Regions from separate parts of the Homo sapiens genome. Here all the other regions are reported to be linked to region 3. The links are microRNA targets in miRTarBase. Many come from high-throughput screens and were not tested one by one. Region 3 holds a microRNA gene; each other region holds the end of a gene's coding sequence.

The links. The annotated mature microRNA hsa-miR-3622a-5p reads CAGGCACGGGAGCUCAGGUGAG and lies in region 3 at 1,827-1,848, shown strand. An mRNA with a match to its seed (bases 2 to 7 or 8) in the 3' UTR can be bound and repressed. Matches are read on the target gene's strand: a 7mer-m8 pairs with bases 2 to 8, a 7mer-A1 pairs with bases 2 to 7 and ends in A, and an 8mer does both.
Region 1: the mRNA of RHOG is a reported target of hsa-miR-3622a-5p. Seed matches in the 3' UTR shown: 7mer-A1 at 885-891.
Region 2: the mRNA of ATP6V0B is a reported target of hsa-miR-3622a-5p. Seed matches in the 3' UTR shown: 7mer-m8 at 324-330.

Annotation. Positions count from the first base shown.
Region 1 is chr11:3,823,961-3,827,960 of GRCh38, reverse strand. It overlaps RHOG (ras homolog family member G), which reads left to right. Exons shown (of 2, transcript NM_001665.4): 2 at 1-983. The coding sequence ends at 398. PGAP2 (post-GPI attachment to proteins 2) reads right to left here. Exons shown (of 7, transcript NM_014489.4): 4 at 3,826-4,000; 5 at 3,585-3,691; 6 at 2,833-2,941; 7 at 1,590-2,633. The coding sequence ends at 2,503. Among named protein-coding and RNA genes, the nearest start is that of RHOG, 15 kb to the left of the region's middle.
Region 2 is chr1:43,977,705-43,981,704 of GRCh38, forward strand. ATP6V0B (ATPase H+ transporting V0 subunit b) reads left to right here. Exons shown (of 8, transcript NM_004047.5): 8 at 277-591. The coding sequence ends at 303. It overlaps B4GALT2 (beta-1,4-galactosyltransferase 2), which reads left to right and starts at 1,506. Exons shown (of 7, transcript NM_003780.5): 1 at 1,506-1,807; 2 at 3,405-3,769; 3 at 3,985-4,000. The coding sequence starts at 3,457. RefSeq lists enhancers at 208-799, 800-1,390, 1,391-1,982 and silencers at 1,400-1,499, 1,770-1,879.
Region 3 is chr8:27,699,864-27,704,011 of GRCh38, forward strand. MIR3622A (microRNA 3622a) reads left to right here and starts at 1,814; the gene lies at 1,814-1,896. MIR3622B (microRNA 3622b) reads right to left here and starts at 1,904; the gene lies at 1,810-1,904. It overlaps LOC124901920 (a long non-coding RNA gene), which reads left to right and starts at 1,107. Exons shown (of 2, transcript XR_007060869.1): 1 at 1,107-4,148. It also overlaps a transcript of SCARA3 not described here. RefSeq lists a silencer at 3,271-3,416.

The sequences.
Region 1 (4,000 bases), not on the chromosome of region 3:
GCCAGGAGGAGTATGACCGCCTCCGTACACTCTCCTACCCTCAGACCAACGTTTTCGTCATCTGTTTCTCCATTGCCAGTCCGCCGTCCTATGAGAACGTGCGGCACAAGTGGCATCCAGAGGTGTGCCACCACTGCCCTGATGTGCCCATCCTGCTGGTGGGCACCAAGAAGGACCTGAGAGCCCAGCCTGACACCCTACGGCGCCTCAAGGAGCAGGGCCAGGCGCCCATCACACCGCAGCAGGGCCAGGCACTGGCCAAGCAGATCCACGCTGTGCGCTACCTCGAATGCTCAGCCCTGCAACAGGATGGTGTCAAGGAAGTGTTCGCCGAGGCTGTCCGGGCTGTGCTCAACCCCACGCCGATCAAGCGTGGGCGGTCCTGCATCCTCTTGTGACCCTGGCACTTGGCTTGGAGGCTGCCCCTGCCCTCCCCCCACCAGTTGTGCCTTGGTGCCTTGTCCGCCTCAGCTGTGCCTTAAGGACTAATTCTGGCACCCCTTTCCAGGGGGTTCCCTGAATGCCTTTTTCTCTGAGTGCCTTTTTCTCCTTAAGGAGGCCTGCAGAGAAAGGGGCTTTGGGCTCTGCCCCCCTCTGCTTGGGAACACTGGGTATTCTCATGAGCTCATCCAAGCCAAGGTTGGACCCCTCCCCAAGAGGCCAACCCAGTGCCCCCTCCCATTTTCCGCTACTGACCAGTTCATCCAGCTTTCCACACAGTTGTTGCTGCCTATTGTGGTGCCGCCTCAGGTTAGGGGCTCTCAGCCATCTCTAACCTCTGCCCTCGCTGCTCTTGGAATTGCGCCCCCAAGATGCTCTCTCCCTTCTCCAATGAGGGAGCCACAGAATCCTGAGAAGGTGAATGTGCCCTAACCTGCTCCTCTGTGCCTAGGCCTTACGCATTTGCTGACTGACTCAGCCCCCATGCTTCTGGGGACCTTTCCTACCCCCATCAGCATCAATAAAACCTCCTGTCTCCAGTGGCCCCGGCTCCTCCCTGTGTGCTGGGCATTAGCGGGTGGGCATGGGCTAGGGCTCCCCAGAGACTGGGAGCCTTTTGTTTCTTCTAGTAGACAATAGGCTTCATTGTGGTCCCCTCACCCCTCAATTTCCCTAACAAAGCTCTAGGCTCCCTTGGAGGGGGCAGTCTTGCTCTGGGGCCCAGTCACAGATGCTGTAGTGGACTCAGACACAAAACCTGAGGAAAGACTTCTTGATCTTAGGGCTCAGAAAGGGAGAGGTTCAGAGCCATTAGTCTAAAGGCAGATGCTCCCACAGTCATGCATGTGACAGCTGTACCTCACATCCCCAAGAGGACAGCTTTAACAACAAGAGTTGGAATTTGAACCCAGGTCTCTGTCTCAACTGAAGACTTCCAGGTACCCTAGCTTGCAGTCCTAGAATCATTACAGATAGCTCACTCACTCCTGCTCACCAAAATAAAGGCTTAGACCAGCTTTAGGAGACTCCAGACCTAAGGGGGACTGGGGGGTTCTGCTAGGAATCATACCCTGCCGTGGACTTACTCCCTCCCCATTCTTGAGCCTGTTTCTCTCCCAGTTCCTATCAAACAAGATGAGCCCCAAGACTAGCAAGCCTAGGCAACTGTTGGCCCAAAAAAAAAATTTATTTTCCTTTCAAATAAAATGTACAACCAAAATTTAGGGTTTGGAGCAGTAGGGAAGACAGGAGATACCAGGGAGCCCATTTTACAGTAGAGATCTGCATCTGACCCCTCTATCCCATACCTTTGCAAAGGAGGGGAGGGGTCTACAAGCCAGAACTTTCAGAAGAGAAGAAAATACATGCTGTGCTGGTGCTGTTTCTGGAGCAGGTCATCCTTTAGGTATAGAACACCACCTCCACCCGATGACATCAGAACCACTGACTGGTAGAGTCCTTGGAAATCATACAGTCCACCCATCCCCCGCCAGACACATGGACACACCGAGGCTCAGATGGGGAAGGGTACATACCCTAGGGCACACACCAAATCAAAAAGGTGAAGTCAGGACTAGAACACCTGAGCAACTTTAGCAGGGGACTGTGGCCACAGGCCTGGATGTGCACAGTAGATCATGAAATACATTAGTCCTATGAATGACCCCCGTGCAGAGAAATGGCTGTGGTTGTCAGGGAGCAGCCACTGCTCAGGGGCTCCTGACCTCAGTGAAAGGTGACTGTGTAAAGGCCAGAAACTGGATGGTGGTCATGAACCTCAGGACGTTTTTTTTTTTAGCACCAAATGGTGGAGCTCTCTGCCAGCTCAGCTTCTTGGGGCCTCTCAGGTAAAGGTGATGTTTGAGGACCCCACGCCCATATGAGGGGTGGAGAGGAGAAGCCAGCAGCACTGGGGTGAGCCTTGGCCTACACCCTTCCTTCTTACCCTTCCCCCATCTTCAGTAAGGCCAAGAGAGGATGTGGGGTGGGGAAGGCCAGAATGGTATCGTGTTTCTTGTTTCTGGGCAGTGGGCTGCGTCCTCCCAAGCAGGACTGAAGGGTTCAGAATCGCTTTTCCTCAGGCTGAGAGGTTATGAGCAGCTCCTTGTTCCCGAAGTCCCACCAGGCCGTCATGTGGAACGCCATGTTGGTTAAGACAACAGTGTACTCCAGGATGGCAAAGATGGTGTACACTGTTGTGAGGACACAAGGAACAGGACATGGTGAACTTCCAGCTACCCGCTCAGAGGCCTCTTGATAAATCACACCACCATTGGTCTGCCACAGAGAACACAATGGCAGCCAGTCCCCAAGACCATTGCCCATTATCAAAAACATCATTGCTGCCCCGCAGCCACTCATGACCGCCTGTGGATCCTATCCTGGCCTCACCTCCAGCCTCACAATACATGTTGTGCCGAAAGTAGACAGCCAGCGCCGAGAAGAAGGAGATGAAGTTGATGATGAAGAGCCGCTGTTTCCAGCTGTAGGACTTGCGATCCTAGGGAATGGGCTGTCTGATCACTCTGCAGCTTGCTGGGTATGAGAGCGTGGGCTCCCCTCTCAGCCCTAACTCCTAAGGGCTGGGCCTTATCTCCCTTGGCTCCCACTAGCGGTCATGGAAGGGAGCACAGGCAGGGGCAGCAAGAATGACGACTATGTGTTCACGTCCCTGCCTCTGGGGGAGTGATGGGCCGAGGAGCAGTGGTATTCCTGCCGCTTCCACTTCAGGGGGATGGAGTATGAAAGTTACATGGAGTCACCCACCAACCCCACCTCCAAATACTGTGGGGGAAAAGAAACCCATGTACATGGGTGGGGCGCTGGAATTATGACAGACCAGTCCTCTGACACTGTTCCTAACTCACTGCCGCCTAGATGCGACTCCTCATTCTATCCCCATTTGCAGCCTCCATCTCTTCTATTCTCCAGTCTCCCACACTACCCAAACACAGTGCTATAGTCCTAGATTCTGACCAACCACCCTCAGTTTGTTCCCAAGCCCCAGCCCCAACCCCAGCACCCCTCTGCCAGGGTTCCCATTAGAACTCAGTTCCCACCTCACCATTACCCGAATCCTGAGGACAGATGTCCTTGATTTTCTTCTGGGCTGCCTTGGAGCCCCCGCTAGGGATAGACCGTACCTCCTGACTTACTGTGTGCTTCTTGGTCAACCGCCAGAGAATGCAGGTGAGGAGCATGTGCCCGAGGGATGAGGCAATGAACACAATGAAAGCATTTTCGTGGATGGCTGGAGGGAAAGAGGATTGGGAGCCACATTGCAGGGAGTGCCCACACCACGAAGTAGGAAGGTCCGAATGTGGTAGGGGCAGGCCCGTCCCCTCAGGGAACACTTCCCCACTCCTCCCTCATCCAGGCACCCACTGAAGTCCTCGGAGGAGGAGACATAAGTGAGCACTAGCAACGCGAGGTTCTCCACGACATTGAGGCCGAAGTTGAGGCGGCAGAGCGGGCGATAGCAGGAACACGGGGAGGTGCAGCTGAGGTAGTGGTTCCAGTAGGCGAAGGCCACCAAGAAGCGAGGCGCCGAGTGCAGGCC
Region 2 (4,000 bases), not on the chromosome of region 3:
GCCTGAGGGTCTGAGTGTGACTGTGGGTGCTTGACTGAGTTGATTCTTAGTGACTAGCTTTATCCATATGCCACTTCTCTCCGTCTGTCCCACAGCGTAACTCTGTGGTTGTCTGTCCCTGTCTGCCTTGTCTGTCACAGTGTGTCCATCCTGGTTAGTCATATATCTCTTGTGGTCTGTCCATCCAACCATGTGCTAGATGTCATCTTCTATCATTTGTCACTGCCTTACCTATTCCTCTGTCCCTGCCTGATTTCTCCTGTTCTTTTTTTGCAGACCTCCAGAGTGAAGATGGGTGACTAGATGATATGTGTGGGTGGGGCCGTGCCTCACTTTTATTTATTGCTGGTTTTCCTGGGACAGCTGGAGCTGTGTCCCTTAGCCTTTCAGAGGCTTGGTGTTCAGGGCCCTCCCTGCACTCCCCTCTTGCTGCGTGTTGATTTGGAGGCACTGCAGTCCAGGCCGAGTCCTCAGTGCGGGGAGCAGGCTGCTGCTGCTGACTCTGTGCAGCTGCGCACCTGTGTCCCCCACCTCCACCCTCAACCCATCTTCCTAGTGTTTGTGAAATAAACTTGGTATTTGTCTGGGTCAGTGCAGCTTCTGTTGCCCTCTTGCGTCACCGTTCACAGAGGAAGGGTAAAGAGGCCTGTACGCCTCAGCCTCATGCCAATCCCTTGTCAGCTTTCTGACTGCACACTTCTGATCTGCACAGAGCTTGCTCCTAGGTGGGGAGGCACGGGTGCTGGGTGGACTCTAACCCCCAAACAGACTTGTTTGGGGATGAGGGAGTGTGCAGATAGGGGCCCCTGGGTGTGTTTGTGCCTGTAGTCCTTCTAGGCCCGTTTGCTCAGGGCTCTGACTGACCACCATGCCCGAATTGTCTGACAGCATCTACTTACCTGGTTGTACAGTCGGGCACCATCATCTCCGTCCTTGTGAGGCCTGGAGCCTAGGCAGTGGTCTCTGCCTCCAGTGATGGTCCTGTCCTTCTAGCAGCAGCCCCTCCCAGAAACCTCTACTCTGATCCTTGTTCCCAGGGCCCAGGGCAGCTCCTCCCACCCCATCCAATCTCGTTTTCTCCTTCCCTGACCCTGTTTCCTGTTACCCCAGAAGCCCCAGCCACCTCCAGCCCACGCCTTTAAGGGTCCTGCCCCCTCTCTGCTGGCCGACCTTGAATCTTGGTCCAATTAAAGAGTTGACAAATCCCTAGCCCCGCAGCCTGAGTCCGCCCAACCTCCAGGTCCCCTTCCTGGGGAGTTCGCGCTCCAATGCAATCCCCACTCCCCGCTAAGGGACTCCACGGTCTGCACCCGCTCGCCGGTCCGACCTCTAAGCCCACCCTTTGGACGAGCCTGACCCATTTCCTCCCGCGCTCCCAGGTCCGTGCCTCCTGGGTGCCCGGGTTCGGCCGCCGGCAGGGCGGGCTCGCAGCGGCGCGCGGCGGGTGCGGGCGTGCTGGAGGCGGGGGCCGCGGGGGCGCGCGCGCGGGCGCGCGGGCCGGGCCTGCCCCTCCGAGGCGCCGTAGCGCGGGAGGGAGGCGGCGGCGCTGTGGTCCGTGGGTCCGCCGGTCCGTGGGTCTGCCCGGCCGCCCGGCCCCGCCCTGCCCCCCGGGGCGGCTCGGCTCCATGGCCCGCGGCGGCGGCGGCGGCGGCGGCGGCGGGAGGCGACCCGGGGGCCGCGGTGGCCGCTGACCGGGCGGCGGGAGGCGGCGGGGCCGGGCCATGGGGGACGGAACCGTCCGCAGCCGCCGGAGCCGGGAGCCCTGCCCAAGTCGGAGCGGCGTCCCCTGCTGAGCCCCGAGCGCCGGGTGAGAGGAGGGCGCGCGCGGCCCCCACCCAGGGCCCCGAGATTCCAGACCCAGCCCCGCGAGGGGCACCCCGAGCGCGGCCCCGAGATCCCAACCCAGGAGCCGGTGAGAGAGGCGCCGGCGGCCAGACCCCGGCCTGGCTGCCCCCACCCCGCCCCCACTCCGGCGCCCCTCCTGGGCTTCTCCGCCCGCGTCCAGCCGGCCTCCCTCATTGTCCTCGCTCGCCCCGGCCTCGTGGCGCGGGGAGGCGTTCCATACACGTTTCCCCTTGGCCTTTGCCTCATCCGCTGCCCTCCACCCACTCCCCCTGCCCCCAGGCTCCACACCCACCCGGTCTGTGCGGCCTGCCCGTCCGCGGGTGCCACGTGTTCAGCCTGCCAGCCCCGCCCAAACGCACCCCTCAGCCTGGCCGCCAGCCTGACCCAGAACCCCTGCGCCGGAGGGAGGGTGGGAATGTCTGCACGTGGGTCTGGGTGTGAGCTGTCTGAGAGTCTGGATGTATGGCTGTGGAAGTCCAGGAGCAGTGGCCTTGTTTGTGAGTGTGGGACTTAGTGTGTTACTGTCACCCGGGTGTGTCTGTGACTGTAGTTCTCTGTGTGTCTGAGTGTGGGTGACCAGCTGGGACCAGGGTGTCCCTGTGATTCTGTGTGCCTGTGAGACTCACCCTGCTCCCTGAAGCACTGCCAGAAGTGGCTGCCGCTCTCTTGGAACCACAGCTGGAGCCATCGCCCAGGCAAGACCCCCTTCCTGCCATGCCCAGTGCTGTGCCCATCTCCAGGCCCAAGCATCCCGTTCCGGGAATCAGAACCAGCTGTGCTGGGCAGGACCCAGAGTCTTGGTCCCAGTCCCAAGGGGCTGGCTTTGAGGTCTTAAGTGAGGGGTGTCCCCTGCCTTGCCCCGTATTTTGACGTTTTGCTCCAGTGGGAAGGGATTCTGTAAACATCCAGTCTGTATTTGGGCCCCCCGGATGCTGAGGGCAACTTCCCAGCCTGGTCCCAGTTGGCCTGGCCTGCTTGTCGCTGGGATCTGAATGACCAAACCACTTCCCACCATGGCTCCTGGAAGGACTAAATGAAGTCATGAGTATAAAGTGCTCCTGCATGGTAGGTGCACAGTATTCCGTCTCTTCCCTCTTCCCCAAGCCATGAGTTCTGGGTTAAGGATGCTGCCATGTGAGGTGTCTGTTCTCAGGGGCACAGGGGCACATGGGGGTCTATAGGTAAACATGTCTCCATGCTTAGGTACAAACCAGTGTGGTTAGAGTTCACGTGTCTGTGTTCCTGGGAATGCGTGAGTGTGTGTGTAGAGTTGTGCAATAAGGGTGAGTGCCTGAGTGTGTGTGTCAGTGAGGTGGAGGAAGGTAAATGTATGTGGCTTAGTAGTGGGGTGTGCTTGAGGATGTGAGTACTGAGTTGCCGGGAACTGTGCCTGGGTGTCTGTTTGGAGGTAAATTCTTGAGTCTGTGAGTGTGAAAGGGTATGAGCAGGTCAGTGTGAGGTGTGGCCCACGAGTGTGAGCAGCTGAGTGGGAGGTAGGTGGGCAGCCTTGCCTGTCCTGCCCTGACCTGCTGGATCTGTTTCCCTCCCACCCTGCTCAGGCCAGCAGCCGGATGCCCGGGCCCACTGGGCGGGCCAGTGGCCGCCTGCGGGATGAGCAGACTGCTGGGGGGGACGCTGGAGCGCGTCTGCAAGGCTGTGCTCCTTCTCTGCCTGCTGCACTTCCTCGTGGCCGTCATCCTCTACTTTGACGTCTACGCCCAGCACCTGGCCTTCTTCAGCCGCTTCAGTGCCCGAGGCCCTGCCCATGCCCTCCACCCAGCTGCTAGCAGCAGCAGCAGCAGCAGCAACTGCTCCCGGCCCAACGCCACCGCCTCTAGCTCCGGGCTCCCTGAGGTCCCCAGTGCCCTGCCCGGTCCCACGGCTCCCACGCTGCCACCCTGTCCTGACTCGCCACCTGGTCTTGGTGAGCCTGGAGGGTAGGGCCTGCCTGTGGGGAAACAGGGTTTTATTGGTTTGACTAGAGAAATGGCATCTGGACCCAGGGGTGTGCCAGGGGTCCAGGTCTGTTGTAAGAGGGCTATTCTTGGGGTTCCCTAGCCCACCCCCAGGCTGAGGGTGGGGGCTGGTATCTGTGGATTCTGGCCAATGCCCTGATTCCTGACACTGTCCTGTCTGCAGTGGGCAGACTGCTGAT
Region 3 (4,148 bases):
AGATCAATTGAACCACATTGAGATCCAGAAATAGATTTACACATATATATCAATTGATTTTCCCCAAAGACACCAATGATTTCAAAGTCTTTTCAACAAATGATTTTTATATGCAAAAAACAAACTTTGATATTACCTCATATAATACACAAAAATTCATCTGATATGGACCACAAACCTAAATGTAAAAACTAAATCTATAAAACTTCTTAAAAAATACATAAGATAATTTTTGTGACTTTAAGAAATATGGTCATGAAAGTCACAAACCATAAGAGAAAAATTTTGATAAATTGGATTATATCAAAATTAAAACCCTCTATTCTTTAAAATATCCCTTTAAGAACATGAAAAGAAAAAAAATCCCAGAATAAGAGAAAATATTTGCAATACATATATGAGACAAAGGACTTGCTTTCAGGATACATAAAGAACTCATACATCTCAATAAGAAAAAGACATGCAGCTCAAATTAAAAATGGATGAAAGTCCCAGCACTTTGGGAGGCCGAGATGGGCAAATCACTGGAGGCCAGGAGTTCAAGAACAGCCTGGCCAACATGGTGAAACCCTGTCTCTACTAAAAATACAAAAATTAGCTGGGCATGGTGGTGGGCTCCTGTAGTCCCAGCTACTTGGAAGGGTGAGGCAGGAAAATCACTTGAACCCAGGAGGTGGAAGTTGCAGTGAGCTGAGATCACACCACTGCACTCCAGCCTAAGCAACAGAGCAAAACTCTACCTCAAAAATAAAAAAAAAAAAAAAGATGAAAGACATGAACAGACATTTTGCAAGAAAAGTATATGAATGACCATGTAAGCACATGAAAAAGTGTTCCAGCTTCATTAATCATCAGGGAAATGCAAATGAAACCACTCTGAGATACCACTAGAATGGCTAAAATTTCAAAAACCAACAATACAAAATGTTGTGAGGATGTGGAGCAACGAGAACTCTCATGCATTAATGGTGAAACTGTGAAGTGGTACAACCCTTTTGGAAAAGTTAGGTGATTTCCTATAAATCTGAACACATACTTAACCTATGATCCAGCAATTTCACTTCTGGGTTTTTACCCAAGAGAAATGAAAATGTTTTTCTATACCAAAATTTGTACATACTATTCACAACAGCATTGTCCAGAATAGCAAAAAACTGGAAACAAGTCAAATGTTCATCAATAGGCAAATGCATGGAAAAATTATGATAAATCCATACTCACCAGTAAAAAAAAAACAAAAAAACTAGTGATATGCAAACCAACTTGGATAAATCTCAAAAGCACATTGAGTAGAGGAAGTCACTCAAAAGAGTACAGACTGTATTATTCCATTGAGATGATGTTCTAGAAAAACTAAAATGAATCTATAGTTACAGAAATCAGGTAAGTGGTTACCTGGGATGGGATGGTTAGGATGGGATTAACTACAAAAGAGAAATAGGGAAGTTTCTGGGGTGCTATAAATATTTTGATTGATTTAACAGTTACTGAGTGTATATATTTGTTAAAATTCATCAAAGTCTACATTGAAGTGTATGCATTGTATTATATGTAAATTATGCCTCAGTACAGTAGATTTTTTTAAAATGTTCTCGTAGCTCCCCATTGAACACAGGTGTCATCATGGCAAGACATTTCCTAGCTGAGAGATGCTTTTTCATTCTTTCATTCAAAAAGTAGCTTTTTCTTTCCTTCCTTCCTTCCTCTCTTTCTTTCTCTTTCTCTCTTTCTTTCTTTTCTTTCTTTCTCTTTTTTTTAGTGGCAAGGTCTTGTTTTGTCACCCAGGCTGGAGTGCAGTGGTGTGATCATAGCCAATAGAGGGTGCACAGGCACGGGAGCTCAGGTGAGGCAGGGAGCTGAGCTCACCTGACCTCCCATGCCTGTGCACCCTCTATTATATCACTCGTATGTCTACCATTGTTTGCAGATCGTGAGCTGCTTGATGACTGATGCTAGGGTGACCAACCAACCAAGTATGCCCCAAACCAAAGGGTTTCCTGGGCTTCCTGAGCTAAGGGATGTTCAGTGCTAAAACTGGGAGGCCCAGGCAAACGGGGAAAATGGGTCACCTTATCTGAGACCTTGTGCTACTCATCTCTGAAAGCATTCCCAGGCTTAGCCCCCTATCAGGTGGGTGATGTATGCTCAGTAAATGTTTCCTGAAAGGCTAGAATATGTGTGAGTAGGACACTTGAAATTCTCCTTTGGTTTCCCATGCAAACTGAGTCCTACAGTGAGAAAGCCAAGCGTAGTGGCAGATCCTGCCCCAGACACCAGGCTCGCTTGGGTCCTGCCTAGGGCGCCAGCCTCTCTCCCATGTCATTGGTGTTCTGGAAAGCAGATAAACAACTGACTTCAAGTCCTATTTAAGTTTTATGGGGTAGCCAAGGTCTTCCAGGGCTCCATCTCCAGGAAGCCCCCTCCCTGCAGCCTGGCTGGCTTTTCTTCTTCTTCTGGTGAAGTCATCCGACCCCAAGTGGCCCACAGTTTCCTTTCTCTCCACACCTCCCAAACCCGCTGCCCAGTCCTGGCACTGCCTGGGGTTACTGCTGACCTTTCAGTGCTGTTTGCTCAGAAAGTGCCTTTATGTCAACACAAACAGCCTTCAGGTTTGCCAGGGCCTGGCTCCTTTTCTCCCTGGGGTCCAGGGTAGAAAAACAATAACCAGTGGGAAGGAGAGCGAGCCATAGGGGAGTGACGCGTCCCTGGACCTTGGGTCTCTGTCCTCTCAGCCCTGTCCCTCAGGGCCTCCTTTGTCAGAACTCAGTTCTGTGGGGAGAGGGTACTGGGGAGGCAGCGGCTTTAAACAATGCCACAGTGTCTGGCAGGGAGCTGCGTGCTTGACCTGATTAGGCTCAGTGAGCCCGGGGGAGGGAGGGAGTGAAGGCAGGCTTGGGAAAGTGTTTTCCATCCCCACCCAACAGACTTTGCTTCCTTGTATCTCTGCCAAGACCTCTTTTTGGGGAGGAAAGGCCGAATCGCCTCATTTCTACAGGGGCACCTTGGCCTCGCTCCTCTAAACCTGGGTAAGCTCTTTGACCTGCCTGTCCCCCTCCCTCTTGTCTTTCCTTCCCACCAACCAGCTCCCAAACAGAAAGTGTTTTTCACACTCGCAGCTCTCCCTCCTCAGGCCCTGCCAGGCCCGAAGCTGGGCCCAGAGGCCAGCTGGCACCCACATGAAAGGCCTTCCTGTCGAGAACTGGCATGGAACCCAGGGCCTCAAGGCTGCCCACACCACAGCCCTGGCCCAGGGTCCAGAGCACAGGGCCACGGAAACTTGGCCACAAGGCTCTGGGGAGAAAAACAGCCTGAGCCGCACAGGAGAGGAGCCTCCCATCCCCGCAGCCTGGCTGGGCACATCAAGGGAGAAAGCGCAGTGCCCAGAATCCTTTGAACATGAAGCCGCAGCACCTGCACCTGGCAGAGGACCCGGGAACCAGGGATTCGTGCTGGGGGCAGCACTTGGGGTTTGTTAGTGCAGGTGGAGAGAAAACAGGAGAGTAGCAATTTCCAACCCATCAGCAGAAAAAAGTGAAAGCTGAGAAGTCAGGGTGAGGCTGGAGGGGACAGGATGGGGTGGCTGGGTGGGCCCAGAATTGAGATCTGATTTGCAAAATGGTGGCAAAAGGCAACAGACTGCGGCTCCCTTGAGAGAAAAACCTGGTCTCCCAACCGGCAATGGGTGTGGTTATCAAACGCACAGCCATGCCTGTTCCCAGGATGCAGGTGCAGTCTGGATAAACTGAGACTAGGGTTGGGGGGGATCTGTTCAAGGTTGCACAGCACCTTCAAGATGGGGCTTGAACTACAAACCCAGGACTCCGGACCTGGAAAGAATCTCCTAGGAGGTTCTGGAGGGTTCATTCTTGGACAGAAATCTGGGAGAACCTACAGCAAAATGGCAACAATGTGATTGTGGGTAACTTAAAGTTTGTGGTTTTGTGTGTGGTTTTTTGTTTTTTGCTTACCTGTGCTTTCTACTTTTTTTTTTTTTTTTTTTTTTTTTTTTTTACAGTGAGAAAAAAATACCTGTGGGGAAAAAAACATAATGGAAAATAAGAGTTTTGATGAAATGATACACTACACATAAGGTGTTAAGCAGGATGAGGGGCTGGCATTTAATAATGGATAAATAAAGGTTAAAAGTA